Regions from separate parts of the Homo sapiens genome. Here regions 2, 3 and 4 are each linked to region 1. Evidence: fine-mapped expression QTL. A gene starts in region 1. Each other region holds a variant in brackets. All regions are shown on one strand. Distances are between the middles of the regions.

Region 1 (8,028 bases):
TTCCAGCCCTTTGGGAGGCCGAGGCGGGCAGATTACCTGAGGTTGGGAGTTTGAGACCAGCCTGACCAACATGGTGAAATCCCATCTCTACTAAAAATACAAAAATTGGGCCAAGCACAGTGGCTCACGCCTGTAATCTCAGCACTTTGGGAGGCTGAGGTGGGTGGATCACGAGGTCAGGAGATTGAGACCATCCTGGCTAACACAGTGAAACCCCATCTCTACTAAAAATACAAAAAATTAGCTGGGCGAAGTGGCGGGGGCCTGTAGTCCCAGCTACTCAGGAGGCTGAGGCAGGAGAATGGTGTGAACCTGGGAGGCGGAGCTTGCAGTGAGCCGAGATCATGCCACTGCACTCCAGCCTGGACGACAGAGTGAGACTCTATCTCAAAAAAAAAAAAAAGAAAAGAAAAGAAAAGGAAAAGAAAGAAAAGCCTCAGTCCCTTCATCTGTAAAGACAGGGGTTTGATTAGAAGCCACCCCAGAGTGGTTCTGGATTGATTAAAGGCTGCTTCTGAAGCCCTGGGCAAGTGCCACACCCTTAGCAAGTGCTAAATAGATGTTTGCTGTTTAGTTTCCACACCAGGCCCCCGGGGCCACAGGAGCTGGGGGAGGTGTTTAAGGAAGGACCATGCTACTGCAATCCCTCTCACATACACCACTTGGCTTTTGTTTTTCTTTTTGTGTTTTTGTTAGAGACACACTCTCACTCTATTGCCTAGGCTGGAGTGCAGTGCTGTGATCACGGCTCACCGCAGCCTCGACCTCTTGGGCTCAAGTGATCCTCCTCCTTCAGCCTCTCCAGTAGCTGAGACTACAGGCATGCGCCACCACTCCTGGGTAATTTTTAAATTTTTTTAGAGACAGTGTTTTCCTTATGTTGTCCAGGCCGCTTTTAAAATTCCTGGGCTCAAGTGGTCTGTCTGCCTCGGCAACCCAGAGCATTGGGATTACAGGTGTGTGCACTGTGCCTGGCCTGTTTTTCTTTCCTGTGGCACTAACCGCCCCCACAGAGGGGAAAGTAAGCAGTGGAGCCCTGGGTTGAGGGCGGCTGTTGTAGGGGCAGGGACTGTCCACACTGTTACTTCTCCACTGCCCGCCTCCAACATAACCCCATCGTGGGAGCTGGGTGAGGAAATGCATGAGCACTGATTCTTCGCAGGATTTCGAGTGTTACACATGTGGTAATACTGCTCACATCACTTGAATCTGCAATCCCATGTGAAGTTGGAGTATGTGGCAAGAAGCAACTCTGCGAGGGTGGTGGGTGGAGGAGGGAGGGGCCCAACCCACAGGCCAGGAACCCATGTGAGGTGGCCGCCTTCCTCTGTCTCTTGCTAATACCTGGGTGATGGGCTTTATGCATCTTGACCCAGAAAAGAGCGAGTCACAATCGACCAATATGATGGAGGGGATATCACTGCACACCAGGCAAATACAGGCTCAGCTGCCAATTCCCACATCCCTCTAGCCCCTTTTGATGGCCAGGGAACTTTCTTGCTTCTGTTCACATGAAAACAACAGTTGGCCCTACCCATGTAACGAAGCAAACACTTACATACTGTGTACTTACTACATGCTGGGCACTGTTCTTAAACACTACCAGCACTGCCTGTATAATTCTCCCAGCAACCCTATGAGGTGGCTACAATCATTAGCCCCAGTTTACAGATGAGCCAATGGTTGCTTGGTGAGGTTTAGCCAATTGCACAGGCTTGCACAGCCAGTAAGTGGCCAGGCCAGGGTTTGGACCCAAGCCATGCAGCCCCAGAGTCTGTGCACTTCACCACAATGCGACGTGGCCTAGTCCCAAGGGGAATGGCTTGCCTTGTAGGCAATGAGCTGCCCATCATCGTGGGTGACAAGCAGAAGTGACTGAGCTAGACAGGGGTCTCCTCCACGTATTCAGTGTGTCCCCTGTGTGTAGCTCTGAGCTAAGCACTCTGCCAATGCCATCTCATTTCAGCCCGATGACACCACTGCCAGATGGAACCATTATTCCACTATATGGATGAACAAACTGGGTTTACAGAGATTAGGTAACTGGTCCGAGATCTCTGGCTGCTGAGGGCTGGAGCTGGGACTCAAACAAGTTTGCTTAATGCAGATCCCAAGCTCTTCACCTCTTATCAGGGATGGTGTCCAATGAGGGTTGGCTGGACTAGATGACTTTTACGGTCCTAGCCAATCCAAGATCCTGAGGGACTGAGAGTCTGGCAAGTAAAGGGGCACACTCCCCTAGTTACTAGCTCTAGCTCTCCCCTAGTAACTAGTTACTATGCCAAAAATACTAGTCATCACATTTCAGTTCTTTTTTTTTTTTTTGAGATTGAATCTCGCTCTGTTGCCCAGGCTGGAGTGCAGCGGCAGGATCTTGACTCACTGCAACTTCTGTCTCCCGGGTTCAAGCGATTCTCCTGCCTCAGCCTCCTGAGTAGCTGGAATTACAGGTGCACACCACCATGCCCGGCTAATTTTTTATTTTAGTAGAGATGGGTTTCACCATGTTGGCCAGGCTGGTCTTGAACTCCTGACCTCAAGATCTGCCCGCCTCAGCCTCCAGTTTGTTTGTTTTTCTTTTTTTTTTTTTTTTTTGAGATGGAGTTTTGTTCTTGATGCCCAGGCTGGACTGCAATGGTGCCATCTCTGCTCACTGCAATCTCCGCCTCCCAGGTTCAAGCGATTCTCCTGCCTCAGCCTCCTGAGTAGCTGGAATTACAGGCATGCACCACCATGCCCAGCTAATTTTTGTACTTTTAGTAGAGACGGGGTTTCTCCATGTTGGTCAGGCTGGTCTCGAGCTCCCAACCTCAGGTGATCTGCCCGCCTCGGCCTCCCAAAGTGAAGTGCTGGGATTACAGGTGTGAGCCAGTGAGCCGGGCCTATTTGAGTTTTTATGTTTAAGGATGTATTTCTCTTACTATTTTTTTTAACACAGGGTTTTTCCTGAAAAGTTGCCTGAGGAACAAAGAGTTAAATAAGACCCTTAAAGGATCAACTCTCTTTGCCAGGCATCTAAGTCCCCTCTGGGGCTTTGAGGAGACAGTCGCTGTCTTTCCTGGTGGTACCACCACCTTCCTTCATTCAACGCCGCCGCATCTGACAACCCTGGGCACAGGAATCTGCACCCCAGGTCTCCACGGTGAATCCAGCAGTCAATTTTCAGAGCTTGTCCTGCCTGCCCCATCCACACCGCTTGGCACATGGGTCAGCCCGCCTTTACTTACCTTCTTCATCTGGCTTCCCGGATGTCACATCTCTTGGTTTTTGGTTGGTTTTTCCAGTTGGCTTTTCCAATTTATACCTGCAGCATGGATCTCTCCTCTGAACTCCAGATACATAAATCTGTCTATTTGACATTGCCTTGGATGTCTAGAAGGCATTTCAAACTTAGCAGGTCCCACACTTAGCTCCTAATTGTCAGTCCTGCCTCCAGCACACGCCCCTCTCGGTGTTCCCCATCGCAGTCGAGGACAACTGCATTCTTCTAGTTTCTCAGGCCTCAAACCTTAGAATCATCCGAGACTCCTGTCTCTCACATATCTCATCTGTCAACGAATCCCATCAGCTCTACCTTCAAAATATGTCCAGAATCCACCACCTCCACTGCTAACACCTGGCTCACTATCTCCTAGTAACCTGGAGGGCACTGTCTTCAGTCTGATCTTCACACAGTAGCCGCAGTATGAAGACACAGGGTAGACCATGCCTCTCTTCTTCTCCAAACTCTCCAGTGGGTTCCTCCTAGTCAAAGTCAAACCTCACTTGGCCCTCTAGACCTCACCTCTGCATCCTCCCGCTGGCCTTATCTCCTCCACCTCTGACCCTTGCTAGCTCTATTTCAGCTCCACCGGTCTCCTGGCCATTCCCTGAACCTGAAACATGGTCTCCTACCCCAGGGCCTGTGCACTGGCTCTCCCGGTGAGGAAACCGCTCTCCTTCCCATCTCCACCGGCGCGTTGCATCCTTCACCTCTTTGCTCACATATCCCTTTCTCAGAGAAGCTTTTACTGAGGCCTCTGCTCACCCTCTTCTCCCCTCCACATTCCGTGTCTTCCTTTTCTATTTCGTTTCTCTCTATGGTACTTATGGCTTATGTAACAAACTAATCTATTGTTTATATATTTATTTTTACTGTTTCTCTGTGAAAACGTACACTCGAAAAGGGCAGGAGTTTTGTCTGTTTGGATCAGGCTCCACCCCTGGAAGGTAGGACAGTGTTCAGCACAGCAGGTGCTCAATAGGTGTTGTTTCGTGAATCAGCACATCAATTGCAGCATTGTGGCTACCAGGGGGTCAGGATGCGGGCGGTGGAGCCCTCTGGCCTTTGTGTGGTAGCCGAGGACTCTGTGTCAGCGACCGTTTTCCGGGAAACTTCCGGGCGAGACTCACATCTTGGAAATTCAAATACTCAATAGCTCTCGAATTCTAGGAATCTTGAGAAGAGGCCTGGATTAAGGATTCAGACGTGGGCCCTCAGATGGGTGAGAAACGGGGACTCTGTGTCTCCTAGCGGGGACAGAAGGGCCAGGTGACAGGCCAGGCAGAGTGGACGGGGCTTGGGCAGGGGGCGGGGGCAGGCAGCCACACGGGGCAGGAGCTGCAGAGCTAAAGCCAGGCCATGTGGACTGGCTGCGGGTTTCGCTGCCTAGCTGGTGGCATTGAGCAAGTTACTTAACCTTTCTGAACTTCCGTTTTATGATTTTGGAGGAAACAGTCATAGCTTTCTCTCTGGCAGAGTCCGATGGCCCGAGTCCCGCTCCACAGTGCGGGTGGAGGGCACGGAGGGGTGTGTGTGGGGGGCGACAGCCCAGGAAGACTAGGGGGCGGCAGGGCGCGTGGGGGCGGGGGTTGGGAGACCGCAGGGAGGATCCCCGACCTTGTCTGAAGATCCAAGCAGGCGGAGCCGCGGTCTGGTCCGCGGGGTAGGCGGGGCGCAAGAGTGTTCCCGGGGGCGGGGGGCCGACCCGCGTCTAAAGGTTTCCGCGATTCACCCGCCGGCGCCTGGCCTGGCCCAGTTGCACCACGAGCGCTGCGGACACTCGGGGCGGCAGTCGGTCTGTCAGTCCTCCCGCCAGGTCCCGCGGCCCGCACCTGCCGCCCGCACCTGCAGCTCCGCACCTGCGGCCAGTGCCTACTGCCCTCTCTTGCCGCCCGCACCTGCAGCCCCGCACCTGCCGCTTGCACCTGCAGCCCCGCGCTCTACCCGGTTCAAGCATGGCTGACCAGGCGCCCTTCGACACGGACGTCAACACCCTGACCCGCTTCGTCATGGAGGAGGGCAGGAAGGCCCGCGGCACGGGCGAGTTGACCCAGCTGCTCAACTCGCTCTGCACAGCAGTCAAAGCCATCTCTTCGGCGGTGCGCAAGGCGGGCATCGCGCACCTGTGAGTCGGGCCTTGGGCGGTGGGCCCCGTCCTGTCTGTCTGCCTGGGGAGCCTGCCCGGCGGGCTGACGTTGGGCCCTCTGAGCCTCCTGCCGTCAGCCTCTGTCTGTCCGTCTGATGTCTGAGCGCCTCTCTCGCTCTCTGTCTGGTAGCCCCTCTCTCCAGAAGCTGGCTCAGCCTCACTCAAGTCCTCATCTCCTCCCTTGACCTTGGAGGGGCCCACCTGGGGGTCCGTCTCACAGGTGTACACCTGATTCCATCTTGCATTCCTCTTCTCTGCCCTGAGCAGCCTGCCTCGTACCCCTCTCAGCCGGCCAAGTGTGGGCACCTGGCCTGCCCGTCATACCCGCCCTAGCCTCAGACAGGAAAGTGCTAGCTCAGGTGCCTTCCTTCCCCATTTCTTCTTTGTCCTCCTTCACTCTTTCTGCAATTAGGGACCCAAGTCAGGTTTCTAATCCAGTTATCTCTGACCTGAAACAAGACCTGTTAGGAGCGAGTGTCCCCCCCGCCCCCCCCGCAAGCAGGCTGGGAGGTCTCCTGTGTGTCCAGAGCCTTTAGGAGCAGCAGGGCTTGTGTGCAAAGGAGCTCCCGTGGGCTGCCCCTTGCTGGGACAGTTGCCATGCTGTGCCAGAAACAGGAAACACCCAGGGCTTCAAAACCCCTATCGATTTGCAATGATGGTGTGTGCAGCCTCTGCCCAATTAGTGGAAAGCTCAAAAGTGGTTTGTAGAATGGTTCTGAATGCGCTATGGAGTGCATCTCGAACGTCACTGGGCACAGGAATCATTTGGGGATCTTGGTAAGATGTGTGCCCTCCTTCCATAGCTCTGGGACAGGTCCTGAGATTCTGCATTTCTAAGAAGTTCTCCTGTGGTGGGTGCTGCCCATCAGATACTGTTTGTCTACTCATCACATTGTGAGTAGCAAGGGGTCAAGTGGAGTGGAGACTCAAAGGACCCCTTCTTGTGAGGTTTTTTGTAAGTCACACAACATCCTTTCGTTTGTGTTGGTGTGCACAGGTATTTTCTTTTTCTTTTCTTTTTTTTTTTTTTTTTGAGATGGAATTTTGCTCTTGTTGCCCAGGCTGGAGTGCAATGGTGCGATCTTGGCTCACCGCAACCTCTGCCTCCCAGGTTCAAGCGATTCTCCTGCCTCAGTCTCCCGAGTAGCTGGGATTACAGGCATGTGCCACCATGCCCAGCTAATTTTGTAATTTTTTTTAGTAGAAACGGGGTTTCTCCATGTTGGTCAGGCTGGTCTCGAACTCCCGACCTCCGGTGATGCCTTGGCCTCCCAAAGTGCTGGGATTACAGGCATGAGCCGCCGTGCGCAGGTATTTTCTAGCTAACTGATCCACACTTTTAACTGAAGTGTAACTGGGTTTTCAGATTGTCCATACACTTTACTAACATTCCCCGCACTTATGCACACTATAAAAATGACACATGATGGGCTGGGCGCGTAGGCTCTAGCCTGTCATCCCAGCACTTTGGGAGGCCGAAACAGGTGGATTGCCTGAGGTCAGGAGTTCAAGACCAACCTGATCAACATGGTGAAACCCCGTCTCTACCAAAAATTAGCTGGGTGTGGTGGCAGGCGCCTGTAATCCCAGCTACTCGGGAGGCTGAGGAAGGAGAATTGCTTGAACCCAGGAGGCAGAGGTTGCAGTGAGCCGAGATCGCATCATTGCACTCCAGCCTGCGCGACAAGAGCGTGACTTTGTCTTAAAAAAAAAAAAAAAAGACGCATGATGCTCAGAGCTGACCTGAACAAATACAACCCTGCTACTTGGGTTTGGAATGCATTTCTCCATTCTTAAAAACTCTTCTCCGCCCCGCATCCTGCAATCTAGATTCCTTTTCTTACTGGCAGGCTGTCTGGCTTTGGTCCCACAGTATGGACTGGTGGAGGTAATTCATGTAAAGGAGTGGTATGATCACATTTATTTTTGAATATTAAGCAGACATGTTAAGGAAGGTGATGACTCCATTACTGTTGCCTCTGGCCCCTCTTAATAATACATTCCTAAGGATTCTTATTTTAGAAACATACCCAGGTGAAATCTTAAGCTTTAATTTACAGCTAGTATAGGTGGCTCACAGCTTTAACTGCCTTTGAGGACCAGGGATATATTTTAAAAAGAGGGCTTGTCGACTGGGTGTGGTGGCTCACACCTGTAATCCCAGCACTTTGGGAGGCTGAGACGGGTAGATCACTCAAAGTCCAGGTGTTTGAGACCAGCCTGGCCAACATGGTGAAACCCTGTCTCTACTAAAAACACAAAAATTAGCCAGGCATGGTGGCAGGCGCCTGTAATCCCAGCTACTTGGGAGGCTGAGGCAGGAGAATTGCTTGAACCCGGGAGGCGGAGGTTGCAGTGAGCCCAGATCGTGCCACTCTACTCCAGCCTGGCGACCGAGTAAGACTCTGTCTCAAAAAAAGAAAAAAAAGGGCTTGTCATGTCTGATATTGTTTAAAAAATGTGTCAGTACCTTTCACACCCCTAGAGAGACTGAGAAATGTAAGATGTGTTTTGAGGTGTCCCACTGTCTAAGTAACCTTAGACAGTGGGACCTTGGATAGTGAGATTTTGATGGTGGGGCCTGGATGAAGCATGTTAATTTTGGCTACGTAAGGTATGC
Region 2 (8,028 bases), 58 kb after region 1:
CATAATTTTAGCTACATCACACTATTACTTCCAACTTTCAGTTTCAGTTGATATGACTCTTGTTTCTCTCTCCAGTCTGATCTACCATTGTCTTCTCCTATTGGCCTAAGCCACATAGCCACATAGGTCTTCATGTCAGTTCCTTTATTTATTTATTTACTTATTTATTTATTTTTTTGAGACGGAGTCTTGCTCTACTGCCCGGCTGGACAGGCTGGAGTGCAATGGCGCAATCTCAGCTCACTGTAACCTCTGCCTCCCGGGTTCAAGCAATTCTCCCGCCTCAGCCTCCTGAGTAGCTGGGATTACAGGCATGCGCCACCATGCCCCGCTAATTTTTGTGTTTTTAGTAGAGACGGGGTTTCGCCATGTTGGCCAGGCTGGTCTTGAACTCTGACCTCAGGTGATCCACCCGCCTCAGGCTCCCAAAGTGCTGGGATTACAGGCGTGAGCCACCATGCCTGGCCCGTGGCAGCTCTTGAATACTCCAAACCTGCTGATCTCTCTGTCGAAAATTCTTCTTTCTAGGATGGGCGCGGTGGCTCACGCCTGCAATCCCGGTGCTTTGGGAGGCTGAGGTGGGAGGATTGCTTGAGCTCAGGAGTTTGAGACCAGCCTAGGCAACATAAAGATACAAAAGATAAAAATTTAGCTCGGCATGGTGGTGTGCACCTGTAGTCCCAGCTACTCGGGAGTCTGAGGTGGGAGAATTGCTTGAGCTCAGGAGTTTGAGACCAGCCTAGGCAACATAAAGATACAAAAGATAAAAATTTAGCTCGGCATGGTGGTGTGCACCTGTAGTCCCAGCTACTTGGGAGTCTGAGGTGGGAGGATTGCTTGAGCCCAGGATCTCTAGGCTGCAGCGAGCTCTGACCACACCACTGCACTCCATCCTGGGCAACAGAGTGAGACTCTGTCAAAACAAAACAAAAACAAGAAAACAAACAATTTTGCTTTCTAGGTCTCTGTGTGTTTCTTCATTCCTTAATTCTAGTCAGGTCTGTCATCAAATGTGACCCCCCCTCATGGCTCTCCAGCCCCCAGCCTATGTGGGTTTTCGTTAGGGCACGTGCCACAGCCTGCTTGTATGTGTCCTGACCTGTGTGCTCTCTGTCTGTTCTCCCACTGGAATGTCAGTGCCATGAAATCCAGCCTTGCTGCCGGGATCGCTGACCCCCCGGAAACAAACCCCAGGGCCTTGAACACTTACTTCCCAGCATATGCTGGAAGCTCAACATGTATCTGCTGAATGCATGCATGCATGAATGAATGGGCTAAATTGGATTTTTTTTTAAAAAATTGGATTATTATAGAGATGTTGGGGAATTTCCAAGTTTACAAATTATCTAACTTTTCTACTCTGGCTGAGCAAGGAAAAAAAACAGAAACAAAGCTCAAATGAAGCTAGGCCAATACTCATTGGAAAGTCAGGGAAAACTAAATCAAGTGGAGGGAGAAATGACCCTCATTTCTCTTGAAGTTGCATTACCCGTGTTTAATTGGCCTGGGGGTTCCGGTCGCCATCACTAAGGGTCTCTCGTGACCTTGCACACAGGGGGCTATAAAAAGGACCTGGGGCTTCCCTTGGTGGCTTGAGCTGCCTGTGACAGCAGAGTGGGTGGGTGTGGGGGACGTTGGTCTCTCAAGACACACCCACTTTATCTTCTGGTCTTCGCATCAGACAGGTGAGATGGATACAAAACCCAGAGGAGTATTTGTGTATAAACTGGCACCCTGCCCTCCGTAAGTCATGGTGTTTTTTGATAAAGATATGCTGTGGTTCTCAATCTCTTTTTGATGTGGTGTACTCTGCCACGCACAGCCCTGACACAGAGCAATTGTGCTAATGGGAAGATGTGCTGATCAGTTGGTGCTTTCCTCTCTGATTTAGGGGAAATACGTGGTCTGCTTTGACCCACTGGATGGATCTTCCAATATTGACTGCCTGGCCTCCATCGGAACCATCTTTGCCATCTATAGAAAGGTGAGTAGACAGGCTGACATTTTACACCTCCTTCCTGTGGTGGTCTCTGGAAGGTTCCTGGGCTGAAAACCGTGTGTTTGGAGTCCTACCCTTTGTCTTCCCACTAACGAGAAAAGCCACTGTAGGCAAACCACCAACTTTTCTCTGCCTGGGGCTCCTCATTAGAAGAACTGGATTGGCGATTCTTTCTCTGCCTACTTTCTGGCATTCCTGGGAGGGTAACACAGAAGGACAGCTGAGATCTTGTTTTGAAAGTCTGGGTGCAACACAAATGTCAGACATGGCATTAGGTTCCAGGTGGCATTCTGAATCTCTGACATCCTCTCCCCCTCTTGCCTCATCTCTCCTGTCCCCAGCCACAGAAAGTTTTCTGCTAACGCTCATTGGATTAGATTGAACTAATCTAACCTGGAAGGTCCACGGTGATCTCCCTATTTGAAATCTGAACCCCTGAGTACACCTGAAAAGTCTTTGTTGCCATGTAATGCTGGGTATTCACAGATCCTGGGGACTGGCATATCTTTTGGGCCATTCTGCCTACCCTGAAATCCTAGCAACAGAGAGCTGGGTGGGTTTGTGACATCCAGCAGGACTAGAAACTTCACAATTCAGAAAACTTGTCCTTCATTCTATATAAAGTGTACAACGGCAATAAAATCCATAGCAACCTCGCCAGCTGCGGTGGCTCACGCCTGTAATCCCAGAACTTTGGGAGGCTGAGGCGGGCGGATCACTTGAGGCCTTGAGGCTAGGTGGTCGAGACCAGTCTGGGAAACATGGTGAAACCCCGTCTCTACTAAAAATACAAAAATTAGCCAGGGTGATGGTGCACGCCTGTAATTCCAGCTACTCAGGAGGCTGAGGCAAGAGAATTGCTTGAACCCAGGAAGTGCAGGTTGCAGTGAGCTGAGATCATGCCACTGCACTCCAGCCTGGGTGACAGAGCAAGACTCTCTCAAACAAACAATCCATAGCAACCAAAGAGAAAAATAAGCAGAGTGCCAGTTACATTGTATTTGAGAGTCTTCTATGTATTAGGAAGTTGATTAAACCGTGCTCTTACAGAGTCTTGAGATAGGGAATCTATGGCAGAAATATGAGTATTTAAGGCCTGTATAGTTTGGGTTATATTGTGAGAATAATCTGGTAGATATCTAATTCTCAGCCTTAATTCATGCACAAGTGTTGCCTTGGGTTGTAGTTAGGATATCTAAAGCCATATGATTTAAAGACATTGTGGGATTAAGACATAGTAGCAGTTTGCTTTTCTGTGTCTTGTGGGGCTGAGGGTATGTTTTGGGCATTATTCAGGAAGTATGTACAGCACTTAGTTTTACTTATACTTCATGGTCCCCACTGTCAATTATATTTGGGGTTCCTGTGGGGCTTGACAACAGGTTGGCAAAATATACATATTTAACAGGCTGGGCATGGTGGCTCATGCCTGTAATCCCAGCATTTTGGGAGGCTGAGGTGGGTGGATCACCTGAGGTCAGGAGTTTGAGACCAGCCTGGCCAACATGGTGAAACTCCATCTCTACTAAAAATACCAAAAATTAGCTGGGCATAGTGGCGGGCGCCTATAATCCCTGCTACTCAGGAGGCTGAGACAGGAGAATTGCTTGAACC[C/T]GGGGGCAGAGGTTGCAGTGAGCTGAGATTGCGCCATTGCACTCCAGCCTGGGCAACAAGAGTGAAACTGTGTCTCAAAAAAAAAAAAAAAAAAAAAGGGGGCTGGGAAGGGTGGCTCATGCCTGTAATCCCAGCAATTTGGGAGGCCGAGGCGGGCGAATCACGAGGTCAGGAGATCGAGACCATCCTGGCTAACATGGTGAAACCCTGCCTCTACTAAAAATACAAAAAAATTAGCCGGGCGTGGTGGTGGGTGCCTGTAGTCCCAGCTACTTGGGAGGCTGAGGCAGGAGAATGGCGTGAACCCAGGAGGCAGAGCTTGTAGTGAGCCAAGATCGCGCCACTGCACTCTAGCCTGGGTGACAGAGCGAGACTCCGTCTCAAAAAAAAAAAAAAAAAATTAGCCAAGAGTGGTGGCATGTGACTGTGGTCCCAGCTACTCGGCTGAGACATGAGAATTGCTTGAACCTGGAGGTGGAAGTTATAGTGAGTTGAGATTGCACTGCTGCACTCCAGCCTGGGCAACAGAGCAAGACTCCCTCTCAAAACAAACAAACTATACACACACACACACACACACACACACACACACACACGCACACACACACATATTTAACAGATTATAGGAGGAGCTATGAATATTTATGAAGATGGTCCTGACATATGTGTATTGAATAAATATGCATGTATGACCCATGTTTATTTTGGGGTGGAATGTATTCCATTTAGGTCCTGTATATCAAAAGATCTTTCTAGGACATAAAGGCACACAGTGTGTGCTTTCTGTAAACTGGCCAGACCTAGCCCATGGTTGGTGGTCTTTTATCAGGAGAGCTACTGAAATTTAGTCTTTTGTCTAATTAAAGCTGTAGTCTTGGCTGGTGGAACAAGAGCCTGGGGGTGAGTTAGTCAGCTGATCTTAAGGCCAGCGCTTGTTTGGCTGCTAGAGAAAAAGAAAAACCTATGGCAGTTAGGACATGGTTTCCTCTTCAAAATAGGAGTGAGTGACTAACCCTTGCCTGGCGTGGCCTTAGGTCCCGTTTCTAATTGGGTATTTTATTGTGACAAACAGCCTATTTTGTCAATCTTAGGGTTTTCAGTTGTGCCTAATTCCAAAAAGTGGGGGAAGGTATAGGGAGGCCTGTCTGATCCCGCTTCCTGCCATGGCCTGAACTTGTTTTTCAGTTTATCTGGGGATTTCCTTCGGCCAAGAGGCAGGTCCATTCAGTCTGTTGAGAGGCTTAGGATTTTATTTTAGTTTATATTCTCCCTTTTTTGTCAAGGTATTCCGGGGGCAGTATTGATGGCCAAGCTTTTATTTTGTCCCATGTGGATGCTGGGGTGGTATGGTTACCTTCCCAGGGTCCATGATGTTCCTCGATGGGACCCCTATGGCCCAGGGACTTAGAGTCAAAACAGTGGAAGCCAGTTAAATGTTCCAGGCCAGATGGGAATGGAGGTGGCCAGGCATTCATTAACCTTAAAACCCCTTTTAAGCAATGTAAAAGCCAAAAACCCAAAGCCAAAAGGCAAGCTTCCAAAATTGACTTATCTACAAATCTATACATCGAGCTACTGTGAGCTTGGCTAGTAGCACTTAGCTGCACAAAACACAAGCCTTTTGTTCAGCTGTTGAAGCCTCTCTGTGTCCGTCCTGGATTTGGAGGCTCTGAATTAATTTGATCCCATAAGACTGGCCCTTACTATGTCAGACGCTCACTTCTTCCACTATAGTCTTTAGGCCTGGGGGATTGAATAGTTTCAATTCTGGAGGTAAAACAAAATACAAAGAATTAGTAATGTTTTAAAGTATCATAAGCCCAGCCTAGTTCTGAGAATGACAGGAAAGGAGGCTTATAGGTAGTTAAGCATTTTAATTATTTGGTATTAAGGCATAGAATAAATCATATTACTTTAGACAGAGGCAAAATTAATAAATTAATCTTACTGGTTTTGACTACAAGGCTGTCCTTGTGTCTCATTAAAGCAGGTGACTTTGATTGTCACCTTTGCCTGGATCCAGAGACAAGGCTTTGGTTAGCTTGAGTTTGGTATCAGATACTGGCAGGAGCCAATGCCTTCTTTAGATGAAATATGTGCACCCAGGAGTCAAAGCCCTGTAACTTAACTGCACAAGGATTTGTTAATAGTACCTGATAAGGGCCTTTTTTAGGGACTAGAGGTAGTGATACTAGAGACTTTGACCTGTCTGGAACCTGTAAAATGATTTTAAAACCTAGTGGTGATTAATTTTTATAGCTTTGGTAAACCCCAGCAGAAAGTCAGAAACTTAATTTAGGATTCAATTTTGAAAAAGTTAAAGATGTTAAAAGGCTCAAAACAATTGATTAAAACAGAACTGTAGGTCATTGTTAAACAATAGTTGCTCATTTAACCAGAGTGATAATTGAAAGATTGAAAAGGCAATCCAGGCTGGGCATGGTGGCTCACACCTGTAATCCCATCACTTTGGGAGGCTGAGGCAGGTGGATCACTTGAGGCCAGGAGTTCAAGACCAGCCTGGCCAACATGGCTAAACACTGTCTCTGCTAAAAATACAAAAATTAGCTGGGCGTGTTGGACCAGCCACTTGAGAGGCTGAGGCATGAGAATCACTTGAACCTAGGAGGCGGTGATTGCAGTGAGCTGAGATTGTGCCACTGTACTGCAGCCTGAGCAACAGAGCAAGATTCTGTCTCAAACAAACAAACAAATAAAAGGCAATACAGAACGTTATATGGTTGTACAAACTTTAACCCTTTTAGATCTCAACTTTTCTAAGCAATTAAAACCTAATAAAGACAACATAGGAATTATTTTGATAAAATGTAAAATGTTGTTTCTTAAGTGAATTACCAGACAGGGAAAGAAAAACCTGCAGTGTAGCTGCTTCTCTTTAGGGGAAGCCTATTTGGATAACCTGGAAGTCAAACTGTGAGTGTATCAGGGAAATAGATAATTCTCAGTAACTGCATGAGAAGCTTTCTAATCATATTGACAAATTTAGACATATCAAGGAAAGTACAGAATCAAGTAATAATGTAGGAAAACATTGCTTTTCTAGACCTTTAAGATAAAATGTTTTAGTGCCAGGCCATAATAATAAAATTGGAGGAAAAAGATCACAAGAGTTGAGGAAAAAGCTGAATGAGAGAGTTATCCTCTCAGGCCTTCTCAAGGGGAGAAAAAGCTGAAAGCAGCAAGACACAGCAAAGCCAAACTTCTGAGATATGATTCTGAGAAGTTTTTAAGAGAAAGAGGTTATAAAAGTAAAATTTCTTGTTATTAGGAGCAAATAAATACCTTAAGACAGACAACCTTGCTTTAAACATAGGGGGCTATTATAAAGAATCCCCTTTTAATTATAGGTAACTTAATCACATGCAAAATTCTTTTATAAATTCTCCACAAACTTTAATACAATTTATACAAACCATTTATGACATGCTTAAACTTTTTGACTTGTCCTGAATTTTGTTTCTTTAGATATCAGTCATTATTTTTAGGACAAGAATTTACCATACAACTTTTTTTTTTTTTTTTTTTTTTTGAGACAGAGTCTCACTCTGTCGCCCAGGCTGGAGTGCGGTGGCATAATCTCGGCTCACTGCAAGCTCCGCCTACTGGGTTCACACCATTCTCCTGCCTCAGCCTCCTGAGTAGCTGGGACTACAGGCGCCCGGCACCACGCCCGGCTAATTTTGTGTATTTTTAGTAGAGACGGGGTTTCACCATGTTAGCCAGGATGGTCTCCATCTCCTGACCTCGTTATCTGCCCGCCTTGGCCTCCCAAAATGCTGGGATTACAGGCATAAGCCACCGTGCCTGGCCAAGTTTTTTTTTTAATATATAAAATTATTCTCTCTTTTAAAATAACCTTTTTTTTTTTTTTTTTTTGACAGAGTCTCTCTCTGTTGCCCAGGCTGGAGTGCAGTGGTGCAAGCTCCGCTCACTGCAAGCTCCGCCTTCCGGGTTCACGCCATTCTCCTGCCTCAGCCTCCTGAGTAGCTGGGACTACAGGTGCCCGCCACCACACCCAGCTAATTTTTTGTATTTTTAGTAGAGACTGGGTTTCACCGTGTTAGCCAGGATGGTCTCGATCTCCTGACCTTGTGATCCGCCTGCCTCAGCCTTCCAAAGTGCTGGGATTACAGGCCTGAGCCACCACGTCCAGCCTATAAAATTATTTTTACAATACGAATACAATTCATAGAATTATATAGTCATTAGAATTTTTATTTCTACTAACTTTAAATTTTAGTGGAAACTTAGTAAGCAAGAAGTCCTGAACGGTTTGTCAGATGTTAGCATTTTATAGATGAAGTCATTTCACAATTTTAGAACCATGTTTTCCCATATTTTATTGTAAATTAGTCCCATAATTTATTATAATTTTTAAAAAATTAGAAGTAAAC
Region 3 (8,028 bases), 47 kb after region 1:
GTTGTCCAGGCTGGAGTGCAATGGTGCGATCTCGGCTCGCTGCAACCTTCGCCTCCCAGGTTCAAGCAATTCTCCTGCCTCAGCCTCCTAAGGAGCTAGGACTACAGGTGCACACCACCATGCCCAGCTAGTTTTTTGTATTTTTAGTAGAGATGGAGTTTCTCCACGTTAGCCAGTATGGTCTCGATCTCCTGACCTCGTGATCCGCCTGCCTTGGCCTCCCAAAGTGCTGGGATTACAGGTGTGAGTCACTGCACCTGGCCGAAAATGTGTGTTTTTAAAACTAAGTGAAGATAATACAGTTAGGGATCATGAAGTCTAATCCCATTTTTTTTTTTTTTTTGAGACAGACTCTCAATGTCACCCAGGCTGCAGTGCAGTGGTGCCATCTTGGCTCACGGCAACCTCTGCCTCCCAGGTTCAAGTGATCCTCCCACCTCAGCCTCCTGAGTAGCTGGGACTACAGGTGCACGCCACTACACTGGCTAATTTTTGTATTTTTTTTATAGAGATGGGGTTTCACCATGTTGGCCAGGCTGGTCTTGAACTCCTGGGCTCAAGTGATCCCCCTGCCTTGGCCTCCCAAAGTGCTGGGATTACAGGTGTGAGCCACTGTGCTCAGCTGGATCTCATTTTTAAATTGAGGCATCTGAGTCCCGGAGGGCTTTGATTCCCGGCCCAGGCTTCTTTCCTTTGGGTATAGATTTAGCAATACTCTGGTCTGACCCAGGCAGATGTTCTTGTTTTATTATACATAGCGATCTCTCTTGTTAGAACTCAATTCTAAGCTCATGTCTTATTCTATGTTCTAATTGTGTTAACAGGCATATGTGCATTGTCGTGTATGGTGCTCAGTCATCTAGGGAGGAGGAGCATCCTAGAATGGGAGAAAGTATCATATAAGAGAAAGAACGCTAACCTCAGGTAGCTCTGGGCTGAGATTCTAGCTAGTAGCTGTGTTATCCCTAGGAAGCCCTAGTTTCCTCATCTGTAAAAATAGCACTACTGGATCAAATAATTGGGTGGATTAATGTGTGCCACATACTGAGATAGAGGTGTCATCTGTCTCCATCTATCCATTCACCTCAGTGTTGAAAGTTGAAATAGATTGAATGAAAATCACAAAAAGGGTATGGGATCCTGTATTTGTTCTATTAAGAGGTAGCATATTTCTTGGTAAGTGAAGATAGACCCCCCCACACCCCCGCGAAAAGAATTAGAACATTGTCACATAGCAGTTCCTCTTCTGGGGTTGTATCTTACTGAAGCACTTGCCCCAATATAAGGATGTTTGTTGCATTACTATTTGAGGAGCCAACTTACCTAAATTATCTGAATGTCCGCAAGCTGGAATGATCCAAGCCTCTGTGTGCTGACTTGGACATCTTCCCATAATATTTGCTTTCTGGAACTAAAAACATATATAAATAACATATATATATATTTGGGATCTTAAACCTGCATATTAAGATCTACTGGTAGATGTTAGTTTTATCTGAAAGTTTCCACATAAATTGTGAGCACCAATGCCCATCTCAACCATTTGGTTGCCCTCCTCAACCAGTTTGGTTGATCCAATGCCAGCGCCCAGCTCCCACTGCAGGCATCACCACACGACCCTGATCTGGCAGACGCTGTGCACAGGGACGTCTACGGGGGTGGGAGGATGGGTTCCAGGGAAACTGTTCTTTCTTAATAAAAAGGAACTGATGTGGTTGGAGCTGCCCTTGCTCCCCTCTTTGCATCTTCAACGTGGGCCAGATGTTCAGAACTGCAGTGACATTTTGTGCCCCCAGGATGCCAAGCAAGGGGCACAATCCAGCCGACCAAGGATGACAGAGACGAGACAGAGAGGGGTCCCAGTGGAACCAAGAACAGCTGAATGAACACCAGCCACCACCTCCTAGTGCACTCCTGGTCTATGAGGAAATAAACCCCCACGTGTAAATTGCTCTAGTTGTTCTATTTCTTGCAGCTGAACACATTCTAATCGACATAACTGTCAGGGGAAAAGACCTTCAGAGAAATGTGCATGTTGTACTGTTTTGTGAAATGAGATTATGTATGATTGCACAATAGTTGTGAGCACATTGAAAGACTGGAAGGGCGGCTGGGCGTGATGGCTCACGCCTGTAATCCCAGCACTTTGGGAGGCCGAGGCGGGCGGATCACGAGGTCAGGAAATCGAGACCATCCTGGCTAACACGGTGAAACCCCGTCTCTACTAAAAATACAAAAAATTAGCCAAGCGTCGTGGCAGGCGCCTGTAGTCCCAGCTACTCGGGAGGCTGAGGCAGGAGAATAGCGTGAACCTGGAAGGCGGAGCTTGCAGTGAGCCGAGATCACGCCACTGCACTCCAGCCTGGGCGACAGAGTGAGACTCCATCTCAAAAAAAAAAAAAAAAAAAAAAAAAAAAACTGGAAGGGCAATAATAGGTAACAAAGTACTGAGCACCTACTATACTAGGTACATCTCATTGCAGCCACTCTATAAGATGGATGCTTCACGGTTATGCTCATTTAAGAGTGAGACAACTGAGGTTCCAAGGGGTTTAATAACTTTCTCAAATCATGCAACCAACAGATAGCTAGCTTGGGACTCACAGCCAGGTCTGGCTGGCCCTAGAGAAAGTGCTTCCACCACCATATGCACCCCACCAGTGCCTACTGGCTGCACAGACCGCCACCAGCCCTAGCAGCAGTGATTTCTGGAGAGTGGGATGGGAGAATGGGCTGGTGGTGAGGAGGTTTGTCTTTATCCACTTCTTTAGTGTTTCCTTTTTAACAAGCAATTTTTGTTACAAAAGTGGACATCCAGAGATATTGACAAAATAACACTGGTGCCAGGAACTGTGCTAGGAATATAATAGTTTTCTTCCGGATCTGGATCTCTACTGTGGATATCCACTGGTCATACATGCCTACTGGAAATAAAAAGCATTCTTTCCTAACTTATTCCAAACCCTGGCTAAAGGAATTCTGGGGTTGCCATTATGTTACTATGTGACCTACGTCCCAGATAAGGAACCTGCGAATCTGCCACCTCCGCCCTCGGGAGAGCCAGGCCCTGCAGTCACTATATGTGAAGAATCCTTTGGAGCCTGGAATAAGAGGGTTTTATGCATCATTTTTTAATCAACTGGATTTCTCACCTCCCACCTGTGCCTAAATGGTGGCTTCTTGGTATCTTGAAAGGGGGTGCTCAGCAGGAGAAAGCAGCTCCATGTTTCTGGGCAGCCCGTCCTATTTACAGACTGCTGCGGCTCCCTGGCAGCTGCCACAGTCCCCGAGGCCAGAGGGAGTTCCTTGAGGGCCCCAGCAGTTGTTTGAGTCATGTGTTTTGGGCCCTTTTCCTTAGAGATCCTGGCAGGGCCAGCACAGATTTCTTATCGGCTTCCACACTGCGGAGCTGCAGCCCTCAGAAGTAAGCAAGGTTTCCTGCCGGGAGAAAAGGATTTGAAGCATTCCAGCCAAAATGACGGACAGAAGCCCCTTCGAAACCGACATGCTCACCCTGACCCGCTACGTTATGGAAAAGGGGCGTCAGGCCAAAGGGACTGGGGAGCTCACCCAGCTGCTGAACTCAATGCTGACGGCCATCAAAGCCATCTCCTCGGCTGTGCGCAAGGCCGGTCTGGCCCACCTGTGAGTCCTGGGGAGCAGGCATGGGGCACAGAGCACCCCAGGCCCAGGCAGGGGTGTGGGAGCTGCAGGTGCTTTGGCAAGAAACTGGGTCCAAAGCTTATTGGCCCTGTGTGCCCTAGATGGAAGCTGCATTTCAAGTTCCTATCATGTGTGCTTTGATAAAGGGGCCTTTGACTTGTTTTGAGAAAGGAACGAAAACATGCTATGAAGAAATACACATATAATTTTTCCAGTTATTATAATGATACCAAGTGCAGTGGCTTGTTGCATTAAAATATGTATTGTGTTATCATGACTTGTACTTGCACAGAGAGAGTCTCACTGGAACAAAGAAGTAGAGGGGTGACGTGAAATATCTCTTTATGCCTCTTGCAGACATGAGTGTTTTATTGTAATAAGCTTTGCAAATATGTTAGGAGCTGGAAATTATGTACGACATAGGAAGCTTGGTAGAGCCCCTTCCTGCATCTGCTCTCTCATCATCTAAAGGAGTGTTTTGCTGGCTACGTGTTTTATTTCTTCTCTGTGACTCTTTCTTTATCTTCACCTCCACTTGGTGTGCAGGAAGCCGGGAGGTGCTAGTCCTGGGAGGGGAGCGCAGAGGTTTCTTCCACAGGGTTCTCTTTGGTGCTTTATCCGAGCA[T/C]AGATGAGGCCAGGTTCACATTACACTGCTGATGGTCACAGCCCAGTGTCCAGTTTAAGTCTGTAATAAAAAGAATCCGGTGGCCAGGCACGGTGGCTCCTGTCTGTAATCCTGGCACTTTGGGAGGCCAAGGTGGGTGGATCATGAGGTCAAGAGATCAAGACCATCCTGGCCAACATGTTGAAACCCTGTCTCTACTAAAAATACAAAAATTAGTTGGGTGTGGTGGCGGGCGCCTGTAGTCCCGGCTACTCGGGAGGCTGAGGCAGGAGAATCGCTTGAACCTGGGAGATGGAGGTTGCGGTGAGTCGAGATCGTACCACTGCACTCCAGCCTGGGTGACAGGACGAGATTCCATCTCAAAACATACAAACAAACAAACAAAACCCCAGCTTTCTTTGGGCTTCCCTTGTAGTAATTCCAGGGGAGGTCCTCTCAGGAGCTGAAGGAACACATATTTTGGGGATGAAAGAGACTCAAAATGAGGAGCTAACAAAGTCCAATCATTTAAAATATTTACTCTGAGCAATTAAGTGCTTTTAACACAAAAAGTGATAGCATTAGATTACAAGATGTAATTATCATTTGATCACCACAGACTGTATTTATTTAGGGGTGGTGACCCAGTAGCAGGACCCAGGTTAACGGTGCATTATCCTTGCTTTTTTCCTGTGGGTGGATGCTTCAGCTCTGTTTTTACCTCATTTGGCAATAACAGCCACGCTCTGCATTTAATCGCCTTCCAGAATGTGAGGGCAGGCGGTGCCCTGTTCTGCTCCTGTGGGTGACAGCCCTGCTGAGTGACGGTAGACAGGGACTTTGCCTCTCCCTGTGCGGACCCTGCTATCCTCAATGCGGTTGCCTGAGTCCATCTCAGGGTGATTCATCCACATAAATTGGGCTCCCCCTCTGTGCAGGGCTCTTGGCTAGGCAGTGGCTGCCATGGTAGGGGTCTTGCTTATCTGCTGCAAAACTCTGACTTTATGGCGGTTGAGCAAGGAGACAAAGTGGCCCTAGGAACTGGATAATTGAGGTGCTTATTAATTTGGCATTTCCTACCGTGTGATAATGGGCGTGATTTACTCTTGCTAGGACCTTAGATTCCCTTTGTGAAATGGAGAGTATAGTAGCATCCCTAACTCTTAGGGTTGTTGCAGAGTTAGCGAGCGCATGTGATGACGATTTCAACTGTGCCGGCCCCGTAAGACACGCACAGTGCCTGTCACTACCGCGGTTCCAAGCCCAGACCAGATTTGCCTGTGCCTGAGCCGTCAATGACCACTGGCGGCATTTGAGGAGCCTTTCAGCCCCCCACTGCACTGTGGGAGCCACTTTCTGGGCTGGCCAAGGCTGGAGCCCACTCCCTCAGCTTTCAGGGAGGTGTGGAGGGAGAGGTGCGAGCGGGAACTGGGGCTGCGTGCGGCGCTTGCGGGCCAGCTGGAGTTCCGGGTGGGCGTGGGCTTGGCGGGCCCGCACTCCGAGCAGCCAGCCAGCCCTGCTGGCCCCCGGCAATGGGGGACTTAGCACCCGGGCCAGTGGCTGCGGAGGGTGTACTGAGTCCCCCAGCAGTGCTGGCCCACTGGCGCTGCGCTCGATTTCTCGCTGGGCCTTAGGTGCCTTCCCGCGGGGCAGGGCTCGGGACCTGCAGCCCGCCATGCCTGAGCCTCCCATCCACTCCATGGGCTCCTGTGCGGCCCGAGCCTCCCCGACGAGCGCCACCCCCCGCTCCACAGCGCTCAGTCCCATCGACCACCCAAGGGCTGAGGAATGCGCGCGCACGGCGCAGGACTGGCAGGCAGCTCCACCTGCAGCCCCGGTGCGGGATCCACTAGGTGAAGCCAGCTGGGCTCCTGAGTCTGGTGGGGACGTGGAGAGTCTTTATATCTAGCTCAGGGATTGTAAATACACCAATCAGCACCCTGTGTTTAGCTCAAGGTTTGTGAGTGCACCAATCGACACTCTGTATCTAGCTGCTCTGGTGGGGCCTTGGAGAACCTGTGTGTGGAAACTCTGTATCTAACTAATCTGATGGGGACGTGGAGAACCTTTGTATGTAGCTCAGGGATTGTAAACGCACCAATCAGCGCCCTGACAAAACAGGCCACTCGGCTCTACCAATCAGCAGGATGTGGGTGGGCCAGATAAGAGAATAAAAGCAGGCTGCCTAAACCAGCATCGGCAACCCGTTTGGGTCTCTTTCCACACTGTGGAGGCTTTGTTCTTTCGCTCTTGCTGCTGCTCACTCTTTGGGTCCACGCTGCTTTTATGATCTGTAACACTCACCGCGAAGATCTGCAGCTTCACTTCTGAGCCCAGTGAGACCACGAGCCCACTGGGAGGAACGAACAACTCCAGATGCGCCACCTTAAGAGCTGTAACACTCACCGCGAGGGTCCGCGGCTTCATTCTTGAAGTCAGTGAGACCAAGAACCTACCAATTCCGGACACACCACCACCCAGGCAGGGGACCGCAAGCCCCTGGCTCCTTTTGGGGAGATCTTTCTAGCAAGGGCTCCGTGAATGCAATTTAAAAGTTATGAGAGTCTCCTTTTCCCCTTCTCTTTCCTCTTCTTATGGTGGGAACAAGAGAGGCTGGAGTGCCCGCCTGGAGCCTCTCCTTGGCTTTCTCATGGCCGTGGGGGATCATTCCTTTAGAGACTGTTAGTTAGCTTTAGTGTCAGTCAGAACACTGCAAGATACTGTCCTACGGGCTAGAGAGCCCCTTTCCCCCATCATCTCAGGTGAAGCTATTGCCGGGAACTCACATCTCCTGGTGAGTTTCCATTCTTTCTAGGAGGAGGGGTGCTGCCCAGTGCCTGGAGAGAGGGTGCAGGGGGTCGGCTGAGGGGTGGGGTTAGGCGGATGAGGGGGCATTTGCAAAGCGCAGGACAGAGGCTGTTTCTCAGCTCTGCCCACCGCAGGCCTGGGCCTGCTGTTCATCCTCCAGTGGCAAGCGCATTCAGATTCCATATCGAACCAAGGCCTGTGTTTGTGGTCCCCTGAAACTCAGATGCAGTCAGCCTAGTTTTGTTGCTGCTGTTGCTTGCTTGCTTTTGTCTTGACCAGGAGGCACAGTCTTTGGGGTGAGGCTGCTAGGAGTGTTTTCCAAGACAGCTGACTGCTCACGTCATGGTTCCTCAGACACCAAATGATGTGCTGTGGGTGGGGGTTGGTGTTGGGGGGTGAGGTGGGGGTGCTGTTCAGGGAAGAGGGTGGGAAATGAGTTTGCCCCCAGCTTAAGGTAGATCAGTGGTTCTCAACCCTGGCTACCTGTTAGAACCACCTGAGATTTCCTTCAACAAATAAATAGCATTCACATCAGTAGGCAAAGGAAATTCCTTTCTTGCCATCCTTTCCTCATAACTCAGTGAGCAGACATGGAGCATGGGCTGTGTGTCTGGGCACTGCAGAAACAGACAGAAGGATGGATCCTGCCCTCTGCAAGCAGGTCATGCAGCAGGAAGCCAGTCCGTGAGTGTGGTGAACACTGAGGAGGGATGATGGGGTGTTTCTGGTGTGTGGGGCCCACTTGAGAGGACCAGGGAGGCGTCCCAGAGAGGAAAAGGAGGAATAGCAGGAAGAAAGCCGGGCAGAGAGCACTGCTGTGGTGGGAACACCATTAGTGAAGGCGAGAAGGACCAGAGCCGCTTGCTGGGTGCTGGCCCAGGGACATCTGCGGCTGTTGGAACGTGAGAGGGTGGCGGGGTGGCTGAGCCTTGCTGTAGTGGTGCAGGGTGGAC
Region 4 (8,028 bases), 30 kb before region 1:
CGCCTCCGGGGTTCAAGTGATTTTCCTGCCTCGGCCTCCTGAGTAGCTGGGATTACAGGTGCCTGCAAAGACGCCCGGCTAATTTTTGTATTTTTTGTAGATACAGGGTTTCGCTATGTTGGTCAAGCTGTTATCAAAGTCCCGACCTCAGGTGATCTACCCACCTCGGCCTCCCAGAGTGCTGGGAAGACAGGCATGAGCCACTGTGCCTGGCCAAAAGAGGCATTCTTTTTTTTTTTTTTTTTTTGAGACGGAGTCTCACTCTGTTGCCCAGGCTGGCGTGCAGTGGCACAGTCTTGGCTCACTGCAACCTCCGCGTCCCAGGTTCAAGCAATTCTCCTGCCTCAGCCTCCCGAATAGCTGGGACTACAGGCGCCCACCACCACACCTGGCTAATTTTTTGTATTTTTAGTAGAGACGGGGTTTCACCGTGTTAGCCAGGACGGTCTTGATCTCCTGACCTGGTGATCTGCCTGCCTCGGCCTTCCAAAGTGCTGGGATTACAGGTGTGAGCCACTGCGCCTGGCCGAAAAGAGTGACTAGCCCAAGGTCAGAGCAGGGCAGTGATTTGAACTCAAGATGCAGGTTCAGGTCAGACTGTGAGAAGCCTCACTGGCTGTTTGTGTGGGGTAACCCATGAGGCAGAAATAATACAAAGAAAAAGGAGACTCAGGAGCCCGGGCGCGGTGGCTCACGCCTGTAATCCCAACAATTTGGGAGGCTGAGGTGAGCAGATCAGTTGAGGTCAGGAGTTCGAGACCAGCCTGGCCAATATGGTGAAACCCCATCTCTATTAAAAATACAAAAATTAGCCAGGTGTGGTGGCATGCGCCTGTAATCCCAGCTACTTGGGAAGCTGAAGTAGGAGAATCACTTGAACCTGGGAGGCGGAGGTTGCAGTGAGCCGAGATCGTGCCATTGCACTCCAGCCTGGGTGACAAAGTTAGACTCTGCCTCAAAACAAAACAAGACAAGACAAAACAAAACAAAACTCAACTTTTATTTTAAGTTCAGAGATACAAGTGCAGGTTTGTTACGTAGGTTAACTCGTATTATGGGGGTTGGTCACACAGATTATTTCATCACCCAGGTATTAAGCCCAGTAACCAATAGTTCTCTTTTCTGCTCCTCCCTCTCCTCCCACCCTCCACCCTCAAGTAGACTTCAGTGTCTGTTGTTTCCATCTTTGTGTCCATAAGTTCTCATTATTTAGCTCCTACTTCTAAGTGAGAACATGCAGTATTTGGTTTTCTGTTCCTGTGTTAATTTGCAAAGGATAATGGCCTCCAGCTCTATCCATGTTCCCGCAAGACATGACCTCGTTCTTTTTTATGGCTGCATTCTTAAACATTTTATCACCCCAAGGAGAAATTCCATACCCATTAGCTGTAATTTCATTCCTTCTGCCCTCAGCCCTTGGCAACTATTAATCTACTTTCTGTCTCTATGGATTTGTCTATTTTTGATATTTTATATAAATGGTATCATACAATACATGGCTGTTAGCCTAACATAGTGTTGTCAAGCTTTCTCCATATTGTAACATTTCTTTTTATTGATGAATAGTATTCCATTTGTTCAGCCATTCATGGACATTTGTGTTGTTTCCACTCCTTGGCTATTTAGAATAATGCTTCAATGAACATTTTTGTATAAGTTTTTGAGTGGACACATGTTTTCAGTTCTCTGGGGTATATACCTAGGAGTGGAATTACTAGGCCATATGGTCACTCTGTTTAACTTTTTGAGGAACTGCCAGACTGTTTTCCAAAGCAGCTGTACCATTTTATATATCCACCAGCAGTGTATGAGGTTTCCAATTTTCTCCACATCCTTGCTAACACTTATTATTGTCTGTCTTTTAAAATTATGGTTATCCTACTAGGTAGGAAGTAGTATCTCATTGTAGTTCTGATTTTCATTCCCCTAATGGCTCATGATGTTGAATATCTTTCCTTGTGCTTACTGGCCATTGTATATTCTCCTTGCAGAAATATCTACTCAAATTCTTTGCTCATTTTTATTGCCCTTTTATTGTTTAGTGGAGTTCTTCATATATTCTAGAAACAAGTTATTTATCAGATATATGATTTACAAATATTTTCTCCCATTCTGTGTATTTTTTTCACTTTTTATTAGTGTTCTTTGCCACACGAAATGTTTAATTTTTTTTTTTTTGAGACAGAGTCTTGCTCTGTTGCCCAGGCTGGAGTGCAGTGGCACGATCTTGGCTCACTGCAACCTCTGCCTCCCAAGTTCAAGCAATTTTCCTGCCTCAGCCTCCCAAGTAGCTGGGATTACAGGCGTGTGCCACCACACCTGGCTAATTTTTGTATTTTTAGTAGAGACAGGGTTTCACCATGTTGACCAGGCTGGTCTTGAACTCCTGACCTCAGGTGATCCACCCGCCTTGGCTTCCCAAAGTGCTAGGATTACAGGCGTGAGCCACCATACCTGGCCAAAATTTTAAAATTTTGATGAAGTTCAATTTGTTTATTTTTAATTGCTAGTGCTTTTGGTGCCACAGCTAAGACACTATTGCCTAAGTTAAAGTCACAAAGATTCACATCTGTATTTTTCTCTAAGAGTTTTATAGTTTTAGCTCTAAATGTAATTTAGGTCTTTGATACATTTTGAATTTTTTTTTGTATGTGGTGTGAGGTGGGGGGTTCAACTTTTTTATTTTGCATATGGATGTGTGTGGTTTCCCCAGCATCCTTACTTTAAAAGACTCTTCTTTCCTCATTGAATTGTCTTATCACCATTGTTGAAAATCAATTAATCCTGAAAGTAATGGTTTATTTCTGGACTCTCAATTTTATTCCATTTATCACTATGTCTATCCTTACAATAGCACCACATCATCTTGATTACTATAGCTTTGGAGTGGAAATGTGAGTCTTTCTACTTTGTTCTTTTTCAGGCCTGTTTTGTGTATTCTGGGTCTCTTGCATTTCCATATGAATTTTAAGATCAACTTTTCAACTTCTGCATAGAAAGCAGGTAGGCTTTTGTTAGGGATTATGTTGACTAATTTGAGGAGGATTATCATCTTAATGATGTTATCCTCCAATCTATGAACATGGCATGTCTTTCTATTTAATTCTTCTTTAGTTTCTTCCAAAAATATTATATAGTTTTCAGTAAACAAGACTCACACTTTTGATTTTTTCTTCTTTTTTGAGACGGAGTCTCACTCTGTCGCCCAGGCTGGAGTGCAGTAGTGCGATCTCGGCTCACTGCAAACTCCACCTTCCGGGTTCACGCCATTCTCCAGCCTCAGCCTCCTGAGTAGCTGGGACTACAGGTGCCCGCCACCACGCTTGGCTAATATTTTTCCTTTTGAAATGGAGTCTCGCTCTGTCGCCCAGGCTGGAGTGCAGTGGCGCGATCTCGGCTCACTGCAAGCTCTGCCTCCCAGGTTCACGCCATTCTCCTGCCTCAGCCTCCCAAGTAGCTGGGACTACAGGCGTCCGCCACCGCGCCTGGCTAATTTTTTTTGTATTTTTGGTAGAGACGGGGTTTCACCGTGGTCTCGACCTCCTGACCTTGTGATCTGCCCGCCTCGTCCTCCCAAAGTGCTGGGATTACAGGCGTTAGCCACCATGCCCGGCCATTGGCTAATTTTTTGTATTTTCAGTAGAGATGGGGTTTCACTGTGTTAACCAGGAGGGTCTTGATCTCCTGACCTCGTTATCCGCCTGCCTCGGCCACCTAAAGTGCTGGGAGTACAGGTGTGAGCCACCATGCCCGGCCAAGACTCACATTTCTTTTGTTAAATTTATTCAATATCTCATTCTTTTGGATGTTATTGTTAATTGAATTGGATTGTTTTCTTAATTTCTTTCCTTTTTTGTTTTCTTTGTTTTTTTTTGGTGAGACGGAGATTTACTCTTGTTGCCCAGGCTGCAGTGCAATGGCGCGATCTCGGCTCACCACATCCTCCGCCTCCCAGGTTCAAGCGATTTCCTGCCTCAGCCTCCTGAGTAGCTGGGATTACAGGCATGTGTCACCATGCCCGGCTGATTTTGTATTTTTAGTAGAGATGGGGTTTCACCGTGTTGCCCAGGCTGATCTCGAACTCCTGACTTCAGCTGATCCGCCCGCCTCAGCCTCCCAAAGTGCTGGGATTACAGGCGTGAACCACCGCGCCCAGCCCCCCATCTCTACTAAAAAATACAAAAAATTAGCTGGGCATGGTGGCAGGCGCCTGTAATCCCAGCTACTCCAGAGGCTGAGGCAGGGGAATCGCTTGAACCCGGGAGTCGGCGGTTGCAGTGCGCCGAGATCGCACCACTGCACTCCAGCCTGGGCGACAGAGCTAGACTCTGCCTCAAAAAAAAAAAAAAAAAAAAAAAATTAGACACAACTCCAGGAAAGCAGGGAAGATCCCAAACTGACTACTAACATGATTCCATGGCTTGGCAGAAGAGAAGCTTAAGAGAAAATTGTTAAAAAAAAAATAAAACCAGAACAATTAGTCAAGAAAAAGAAATAAAGGGAACCCAGATTGGTAAGGAAGAAGCAAAATTCTTTGCATCTGCAGATGACATGGTTTTGTATATAGAAAATCCAAAGAACACACAAAGACAAACCAAAAAAACCTATTAGAGCTAGTAACAAGTACAAGTTTGCAGGATACAGGATCAATATACAAAAACCAATTACATTTCTATTGGAGTAGAGACGAGATTGCACCACTGCACTCCAGCCTGGGCAACAGAGCGAGACTCTTGTCTCCAAAAAAAAAAAAAAAAAAAAAGCACTTTGGGAGGCCGAGG[A/C]GGGCAGATCACAAAGTTAGGAGATCGAGACCATCCTGGCTAACACAGTGAAACCCCGTCTCTACTGAAAATACAAAAACAAAAACAAAAAAATTAGCCGGGCGAGGTGGCGGGCGCCTGTAGTCCCAGCTACTCGGGAGGCTGACGCGGGAGAATGGCGTGAGCCCGGGGGGCGGAGCTTGCAGTGAGCCGAGACTGCGGCACTGCACCCTAGCCTGGGCGACAGAGAGAGACTCCATCTCAAAAAAAAAAAAAAAAAAAAAAGGAAAAAGAAAAAAAAAGTGACAGAAAAAACGCTCTCTGCAGAGGAGAGAGGATTCCGAGTGGATTGCGGGGTTACAGCTGAGTTCAAAAGCTTTTATCAGAAACTCTTATCTCTAGCAGTTTGAGTCACTTCTCTTATCAGTAAAGCTGTCTGTGCAATTCCCCTTCTGTTACGCAGCCGTGGGTATGTCTCTAGGCCATCACGAATTCTGCTTTTCTAGTTTGTATTAACTGTGGGTTTGTTTTAGGTAAGCCCCCTCCCCATCTGTGCAAGTTTCCACCGTATATATGCCTGAAAAAAGGGAAGAAACTTTTTTCCTGGGAGCTCACTAAGTTGCTTATCTGTGCGCAGGTGCAGCCTGAGGTTTTTTGTTTTTTTTTTTCCCCAAGGTTGTTTCATTTTTGCCTGTTGCTGTAACTTTTCAGGCAGGTTGCTTCTGCAGTCTGCATTTTCCCCAACTGATTTTTTCCTTTCCTTCTTCTCACAGTGGCTCTCATCTGGGGTGACTTTGCCTCCCTGGGGATGTTTGGCAATAATATCTGGAGACATTTTGGTTCTCACAACTGGAGGGCCGTGGATGCTACTGGCACCTAGTGGTAGAGCCCAGGGAAGCTGCTAAACATCCTGCACTGAACAGGACATCCCCACAACAAATGAATTATTAGGTCTAACGTCAATAGGGTGGAGGTTGAGAAATCCTGCTATAAATCTCGTTTAAATCCGTGAGGATGTGGGCTTTTGAAATAATAATAAATAATTTTAATTTGATTTTCTGTGGTTATATTGCCATCCCTGGGACATGGAGGCAGAAGGTCTATTTGATTAGGGAAGGGCAGGGAGCAGGAGAAAATATCAAAGAGCATCTCAGTCGAGTACCACACAGCAATGAAAATGAATGAGCCATAGACACACACACCACACAACAACCAGATAACCTTGAACAAAAGAATATACAGCATGCGTTCATGTACATAAAGTTCAAAAACAGGCACAACTACTTTACTGAGGAGATTATAGCTGGACAGTAACACTACCAAGAAAAGCAAGGATATTATTGCCATAAAAGTCAGGGTAATGATTACCTCTGGGTGGCGAGTCAGAAAAAGGATACCAGGAGACTGGCATCATTCCATTCCTTGAACTTTTCATTTTCCTTTAAATAGTGCATTTTGTTTTATGAACTTCTACGTATGTTTCACAATTAAAATATAAAAAAAGGGGGACATTAGTTAACATTCAAAAATCTCATCCTCCTAAAACAGAAAGAGTCCCTAAGTGGAAAAACAGGTGAATTACTTTTCTTTTTTTTCTTTTTTCTTTTTTTTTGAGACAGAGTTTAGCTCTTTCCCCTAGGCTGGAGTGAAGTGGTGCCATCTCGGCTCACTGCAAACTCTGCCCCCTGTGTTCAAGTGATTCTCAAGCCTCAGCCTCCTGAGTACCTGGGATTACAGGCACCCACCACCACGCCGGGATAATTTTGTATTTTTAGTAGAGACAGGGTTTCTCCATGTTGGTCAGGCTGGTCTCAAACTCCCGACCTCAAGTGATCCACCTGCCTCAGCCTCCCAAAGTGCTGGGATTATAGGTGTGAGCCACTACGCCCAGCCAAACAAGTAAATTTCAAACGAAGTCTGGGGTTTAGTTAAGTCATGTACCAGTCGTAATCTCCTAGTTTTGACACATGTACTACGGTGATGTAAGATGTTCACAACTGGGGAAACCGGGACGGGGGGAAGGGTCTCTCTAAATTATCTTTGCAGTGTAGACCTAAAATTCGTTCAAAATTAAAAGTTTCTTTAAAAACAAGTCTCTAACACATTTCTAAATGTTTCCCTCTAACCTTTGGTCTTTTTCTCAGCTTTCAGTTTATCAACTTTTGATGATACGAGTAACAACGCTGGGAATAACAGCAGCTAATGCTTAAAGCAAGGCTAGCCCCACAGGCTGTGCTTCTGCTGTTGCTATTATGGAGGATTGGGGAAGTGCAGCAAAGTCTGAAGAAACAGAAAAAACAGCTACTCAGATGCAGTCACTATTTCACTGAGGCATGTTGCCGTCCTCTTTTGGTTTCTCTGTACATTTTAATTTGGCTTACACCATTTTGTAACCTGATTTTAAAAAAACTCTAAACATCGCCGGGCGCGGTGGCTCATGCCTGTAATCCCAGCACTTTGGAAGGCCGAGGCGGGCGGATCACGAGGTCAGGAGATCGAGACCATCCTGGCTGACACGGTGAAACGCCGTCTCTACTAAAAATACCAAAAATTAGCCAGGCGTGGTGGCGGTTGCCTGTAGTCCCAGCTACTCGGGAGGCTGAGGCAGGAGAATGGCGTGGACCCGGGAGGCGGAGCTTGCAGTGAGCTGAGATCACACCACTGTACTCCAGCCTGGGCGACAGACTGAGACTCCGTCTCAAAAAAAAAAAAAAAAAAAAAAAAAAGAAAGAAAGTAAATAATTAGACCAAGGTAGGAGGACAGAACATTTTTCTTTTTGTTTCTCCCACTTGACCATCTGAGGATTCTGTGCGTTCTCATTTTGGCAAAATTCAACAGGATATGGTATTGGCTCAATGTTACTCCTGCCTCGGGCAGCAGAGATGTATATGGCACCAACTCAGCAGCCAGCAGGAAAAGCCGTCTGCCCCACCTCACTCCTGCACAATCGCTCCTGGGGACATCACTACAGTACTGCCCGTGTTCAGTGTCCAGCTGAGAAGCACATCAGAGCCCACTCTGTCTGTTCAATGATCCTGTTTATTTGACCCTTATGACAAAAAGCGTGGAGGGGGCAAAATTCTGTCGCCCACAGCAAAATGTGGCATTTCCCTGGACATTGGAGTCTAGAACTTGGTAATTTAAGTTTGATTTATTTAATTTTGAATGTCACCCAGACACCCACATTGGTACAAACGTCATGGCAGGGTCAAGGGTCCCAGGTTGTTCAACAGCCACATCATCAGCTTTTTGCAAGAGCGGCTGACA

The links. PIP is the estimated chance that this variant, and not a neighbour inherited with it, causes the effect.
Region 2: its variant is fine-mapped to the expression of FBP1 in whole blood (TOPMed, PIP above 0.99).
Region 3: its variant is fine-mapped to the expression of FBP1 in whole blood (INTERVAL, PIP 0.98).
Region 4: its variant is fine-mapped to the expression of FBP1 in whole blood (TOPMed, PIP above 0.99).

Annotation. Positions count from the first base shown.
Region 1 is chr9:94,636,500-94,644,527 of GRCh38, reverse strand. It overlaps FBP1 (fructose-bisphosphatase 1), which reads left to right and starts at 5,010. Exons shown (of 7, transcript NM_000507.4): 1 at 5,010-5,387. The coding sequence starts at 5,218. RefSeq lists a silencer at 4,877-4,936.
Region 2 is chr9:94,578,533-94,586,560 of GRCh38, reverse strand. It overlaps FBP2 (fructose-bisphosphatase 2), which reads left to right. Exons shown (of 7, transcript NM_003837.4): 3 at 1,892-1,984. Among named protein-coding and RNA genes, the nearest start is that of FBP2, 11 kb to the left of the region's middle. The variant C/T (reference allele first, on the strand shown) is at 3,614.
Region 3 is chr9:94,589,174-94,597,201 of GRCh38, reverse strand. It overlaps FBP2 (fructose-bisphosphatase 2), which reads left to right and starts at 3,378. Exons shown (of 7, transcript NM_003837.4): 1 at 3,378-3,645. The coding sequence starts at 3,476. RefSeq lists an enhancer at 5,369-5,911. The variant T/C (reference allele first, on the strand shown) is at 4,289.
Region 4 is chr9:94,666,629-94,674,656 of GRCh38, reverse strand. No RefSeq gene overlaps it. Among named protein-coding and RNA genes, the nearest start is that of FBP1, 31 kb to the right of the region's middle. RefSeq lists a silencer at 5,136-5,430 and an enhancer at 5,418-5,557. The variant A/C (reference allele first, on the strand shown) is at 4,782.